2 separate regions of the Homo sapiens genome follow, and region 2 is linked to region 1. A link means that fine-mapping ties the variant in region 1 to the expression of a gene that starts in the linked region. Tissue or cell type: whole blood. Region 1 holds a variant in brackets; the other region holds the start of a gene. All regions are shown on one strand. Distances are from middle to middle.

Region 1 (2,757 bases):
AGTTCTTGACTTTTGTGCACTCGCAGGCTCAACACCACATGGAAGCTGCCAAGGCTTGGGCCTTGCACCCTCTGAAGCCACGGCCTGAGTTCTACATTGGCCCCTTTCAGCCACAGCTGGAGTGGCTGGGACCCAGGGCACCAAGTTTCTAGGCTGCACAGAGCACGGGAGCCCTGAGCCTGGCCCAGGAAACTGAATGCCTTTAACAGCACCTTTAATAGCACCTCTTGAATGCTTTGCTGCTTAGAAATTTCTGCCAGATACCCTAAATCATCTCTCTCAAGTTCAAAGTTCCACAAATCTCTAGGGCAGGGCAAAATGCCGCCACTCTCTTTGCTAAAACATAGCAAGAGTCATCTTTTCCCCAGTTCCCAACAAGTTCCTCATCTCCATCTGAGACCACCTCAGCCTGGACCTTATTGTCCGTATCACTAGCAGCACTTTTGTCAAAGCCATTCAAGTCTCTAGAAAGTTGGAGTTTCCCACATTTTTTTGTCCTCTTCTGAGCCCTCCAAATGGCTCCAACTTCTGCCTATTACCCAATTCCAAAGTCGCTTCCACATTTTTGGGTGTCTTTTCAACAACGCCCCACTCTGCTGGTACCAATTTACTGTATTAGTTCGTTTTCACGCTGCTGATAAAGACATACCCAAGACTGGACAATTTACAAAAGAAAAAGGTTTAATTGGACTTACAGCAAAGATTTTTAAAGTATCCTCAAAGAATACCAAGGAGAACTAAAACAGAAACCCTCACACATAGCTGGTAAGAGTATAAATTGGCACAATTTGCTTCAGAAATTATACCCTGAGTCTTAAGAATATTCATTTTGGCTGAGTGTGGAGGCTCACGCCTGTAATCCCACCACTTTGGGAGGCTGAGGCAGGAGTTCGAGACCAGCTTGGGCCATATGTCGAGGCTACTTGGTATTCTAGACCATGATCTGAGGTCAAGCCAGTGGACAGGAAAATCCTGAGGTCAACCTGACCTCAGGTTGAAGAACTAGCCCAACAGGACGGTTATAAGGGGAGGTTCGTTTATGATTTTGCTCCACGAGGATTGCTCATTCTACGTATCTATTATTTGTAAAAGATCAGCACATAATAATCCATCCACAAAGGCCGTTTACCTTT[G/T]TCTCTGCTAAGGGTTGATTTTCCATCTGATCCAAAATAAGCAGCCAAATGTACTACTGTATTAAAAGTAAAAACATCAGGAATCCAGATAAAGGTGAGTTTTAATGTTCTTTGCTTTTTATTTTGGCTTCTAAGGTGGAGTCAAAAGCTGTCTAGCAACCCCTAGCTGGGGTAAAATAATTCCTATGAATGAACTCAGGGTCCTCTGAGGACCAGGCAGGAGAGAAGGAAGAACCAAGAAGAAAGCAAGGGAGAGACAAATGAGGAAACAGAACAAGAGCTGAGAAACCAGACACAAAAGTTGTCTCTGATGTGAAATTAGACAAAATGCCATGACTATTGGCTTAGGGCACACCACTTAAAATGAACATCTTAATGAGTTTTATTCTATGTGTGTGCATTATTTCCGTGGGAAACATGGCAGGTGTTAGGCTAAGGTTTGGGTAGGTGATGGTTAGTCCGCTTGACATCTACAAGTTTAAGAAAGGCCCCTTTCCTTGGACTTTGAGAGGATTTTGAAAAGAAAAGCGATCACTGGAAGGTTTTAGGACCGCCAAGAAGGCAATTTTACAACATTCATTAGACATACAGTGTGAAACATCTCTGCTTTGTGTTTCTGGACAGTAGAGATGACATGGCCTTCAATGGCTGGGGTGACTATTCCCCTCCAAAATTAAAGACTTGGAACTTAATTAGGAAATTGAGCTTTCAGAAGAATTTGGCCGCCTTTTATTTGTTCTCAAAATCCACTAGTCAATTAAACAACTCATTTGAACTTCCACTTCTTGCCAAAGTAGACTAAGAGAGGCAGGAATTACCCTCCTGTGGGCCTGTCTTACAGGGTAAGAAAAACCAAACGGTTTTGCCTGCTCTGACACACACTCAACATGACTCCCCTGACACCAGATTCTCCAGTGGACACAGCTGGGAGGTGTCCTATAATTCAATTCTGGAGATGCTGTCAGATCCTGCAGGTTGAAGACTCAGTCCCACCGGACCACCCCCACTTCAGATGCCAAGTCCCAGGTGGTGACCTGAACTTTTGACCAATGGGCTATAAATTGGAGTTCCCATGACCGCCTCCTTGGGTTTGATTAGTTTGCCAGAGTGGCCCTCAGAACTCAGGAAAACACTTTACTTCTGTTTAGCCATTTATTATAAAGGACATTACCAAGGATACAGATGGACAGCCAGAGGGAGGAGATGCACAGGGCTAGGTATGGGAAGGGGCACGGAGCTTCCATACCCTCTCTGGATGCGCCACCCTCTGGGAACCTCCAGGTGTTCGGCCATCTGGAAGCTCATCTGCACCCTTGGCATTTTGTGTTTTTATGGAGGCCTTATTACATATACATGATTGATGATATCATTGGCCCTTGGTGATCAACTTGACCTTCAGCCCCTCTCTTCTCCCTGGAGGTTGGGGGAGGGGGTGGGGATGAAAGCTCCAACCCTCTAATCCTGCTTGGCCTTTCTGGTGACCATCCTCCACCCTGGAGCTATCTAGGGGAGCCCAAGAGGAGACAAAGTTGCCCAGAGAAAGAACTCTGGAAGTCTGCAGAGGGGTCTCGTGAGCATTATGGTGAGCACTGAAGAATATATGTGAGGAAACTAAGCCAAGGAT
Region 2 (2,757 bases), 52 kb before region 1:
CCACCAGGGGAACTTAGAACCTTGTGGGAAATAGATTGCGCACCATTAGAAGTGGGTTGGCCATCAGAAGGAAGCCTGGACAGGTCCCTTGTTTCTAAGGCGTGGCACAAGGTAACTGGTAAAGATACCTAGACCAGTTCCCATACATAGACACTTGGTGACAGCTGGTGCTAGAACCCCCACAGTGGCTGAGGGCATGCAGCAGCAATACTAGTAGCAAAGGGACAGATAGCTAAGGAAGGATCCCGCTCCACTCACCCAGGGAAATCAACTCCTGAAGTTCTGTTCGACCCCACATCAGAGGATCCATTGCAGGAGATGGCACCAGAGATCCCAGTGGTGTCCTCCCCTTAACAGGGAAAGAGGCTCCCCACTCTTGAGCCCACAGTGCTTGTGCCTCCACAAGACAAGCATATCCCTAGGCCACCCAGAGTAGACAAGAGAGGAGGACTATTCATATGATTAGTGGTCATTAACATATACTCCTTTGTGAGGTGTATGTTTCAATGTTTTGCTCATTTTTAATTTTTACCAGGTTGTCTATTTGTGATTACTTTGTAGATGGGTCTTTCTATATTCTGAAAACAAATCCTGGCTGGGTGCGGTGGCTCACGCCTGTAATCCCAGCACTTTGGGAGGCTGAGGTGGGCAGATCACCTGAGGTCGGGAGTTCGAGACCAGCCTGGCCAACATGGACAAACCCCGTCTCTGCTAAAAATACAAAAACTAGCTGGGAGTGGAGGCTGAATGTTTCACTCCGTTACATGTTAATTGCTCTACATTTAATTAGCCGTCTGTGGTGAGAGGCGAGAGGCTAGCGCCTAGCTCAGCGCACAGTCCAGGGCGTTCGCCCCCGCAGGCCGCGGGGCAGGGTGGCTCGTTACTCCGTGGACACTGCAAGGCGCCCTGTTCGCGCTGCGTCGACGCAGTAGTTTCTTCCCATAATAAACCCCTTCTAGATAAAGTCAGGCTGGCGGGAGCGCCCTGGACCGTAGTTCAGGCCCCCGCGCTCCGCGGTGGGAACAGTTCAGGACTCCCCCAACTCCTGCCCCTCTCGCCCCGACCCTCTCCACTCCGCCCGCCCACCATCTCGGAAGTCCCCTTGGGACAATGCGTAGGGGACCTCCGCGTCCCCGACACCCGACTGGGACACGGCCGCGGGCTCCTTCGTCCCTCACCGCCAGCCAGGGAGGCTCTGCATGCCCACGTCCACTTCACAGCCGAGGAAGCTGCGGCTCGCGGAGGTGCCTGGCACGCGGCGGGAAGCAGCAGAGCTCGCGCCCAGCAGTCAGCTCTGGTGACGCCGAGGACACCGCGTGGGCCGGGTTGTCAGGGCGCGGGGGCGAGAGGCGGGTAAATATTTGGGGCTGTAACCGGGGCTTCGGCGACTCCTCGTCACCGCGGTTCCAGGGCGGGCGCGTGGCGAGGGCGGTGCCTGGGGGCAGGGGCCTCCTCGGAGGGCGGCGGGGACAGACCCGTCGCCCCGGCTCCGCAGCCCCGCCCCGGCCCCGCCTCCGCTCCGGCCGCCGAAGGCTATAAGATCTAGGAACCCGAGCCGGTGGTAGGGCGGGCGCGGACCGTGCTGGGAGCGGCGCGGCTGGAGCGCAGCGCCGAAGGGACTGGCAGGGCTGAAGTGTGCGGGACAGCAAGCCCCCGAATAGCCCCGGCTGCCACCTCGCAGGACCCAAGGCCACGCGCGCCGGGCCCAGCTGAGCCGCCTCATGAAGCCGCCCGCGGCGCAGGGCAGCCCCGCGGCCGCCGCGGCCGCAGGTGAGTGCGGGGTCCGGGGTCCCCTTAAAGTCTCGGCTCTGCAGATGGCGGGTGAGAAAGGAGGGGCCCCGTGTCGTCCCTTCACACCCCCCACCCTTCCATCCTCCCCGGCGGGAACCTGTCCCCGGTCTTCCCGCGCGGGCGGCTGCAGCCTCCTTTCCGGCCCGGGCTGGCCCCCATGTCCCACCTTCCCTCCACCACCAGCTCCGCGCGCGCCCGGGGTTGGGGGGAGCGGCGGGGACAGGTAACCGGCAGCGCCTGGGGAGGAATCTGGCCGCGCCAAGTCGCTGGGTGACCCTGGGCCTGGCGAAGGCTCAGTTTTCTTGTCTGTAAAACGGACTTGGTAATAGAACGCACTTCGGGGGTGGTGGAGAAGATTACAAGGTAACAGCGACTGCGTGGCTGTCACTTGGCAGAGGCGCCAAGTGTCAGTTATCTTCGGGAACCGTGGCGGCCCCTCCTGGCCCTGGGAGGTGGTCCCGCTGCCCCCCTGACTTCCGTGCACTGAGCCCCTGGCCCTGCCCGCAGCCCCGGCCCTGGACTCGGCGGCCGCGGAGGACCTGTCGGACGCGCTGTGCGAGTTTGACGCGGTGCTGGCCGACTTCGCGTCGCCCTTCCACGAGCGCCACTTCCACTACGAGGAGCACCTGGAGCGCATGAAGCGGCGCAGCAGCGCCAGTGTCAGCGACAGCAGCGGCTTCAGCGACTCGGAGAGTAAGTGCGGCCCCCGCTAGGATGGCGCCGGGATCTCCCAGCTCCCAGGACCTGCCCCGCGAAGGCTGCGGCCTCAGTTTTCTTATCAGTAAACTGAGGAATGGTTTCCTGAAGCTCAACGCAGTAGGCCGAGTGGTGGCGGGGCCCCTGACGATAATCACGGGAAAGGTCGCTGGAGGGCAGGTTGGTTCACTTGCCGCCCACGGGTGTGTCACCAGGCAGGCGAGTTTAAGCAGCTTGTCCCGACTCAGCCAGACAGGACTCCCTGGACCT

Evidence for each region. PIP is the estimated chance that this variant, and not a neighbour inherited with it, causes the effect.
Region 2: it holds the start of RGCC, and the variant in region 1 is fine-mapped to the expression of RGCC in whole blood (TOPMed, PIP 0.96).

The regions. Positions count from the first base shown.
Region 1 is chr13:41,508,041-41,510,797 of GRCh38, forward strand. No RefSeq gene overlaps it. Among named protein-coding and RNA genes, the nearest start is that of RGCC, 52 kb to the left of the region's middle. The variant G/T (reference allele first, on the strand shown) is at 1,134.
Region 2 is chr13:41,455,987-41,458,743 of GRCh38, forward strand. RGCC (regulator of cell cycle) reads left to right here and starts at 1,564. Exons shown (of 5, transcript NM_014059.3): 1 at 1,564-1,770; 2 at 2,299-2,484. The coding sequence starts at 1,722. RefSeq lists a silencer at 1,337-2,176 and enhancers at 1,750-2,427, 2,477-2,606.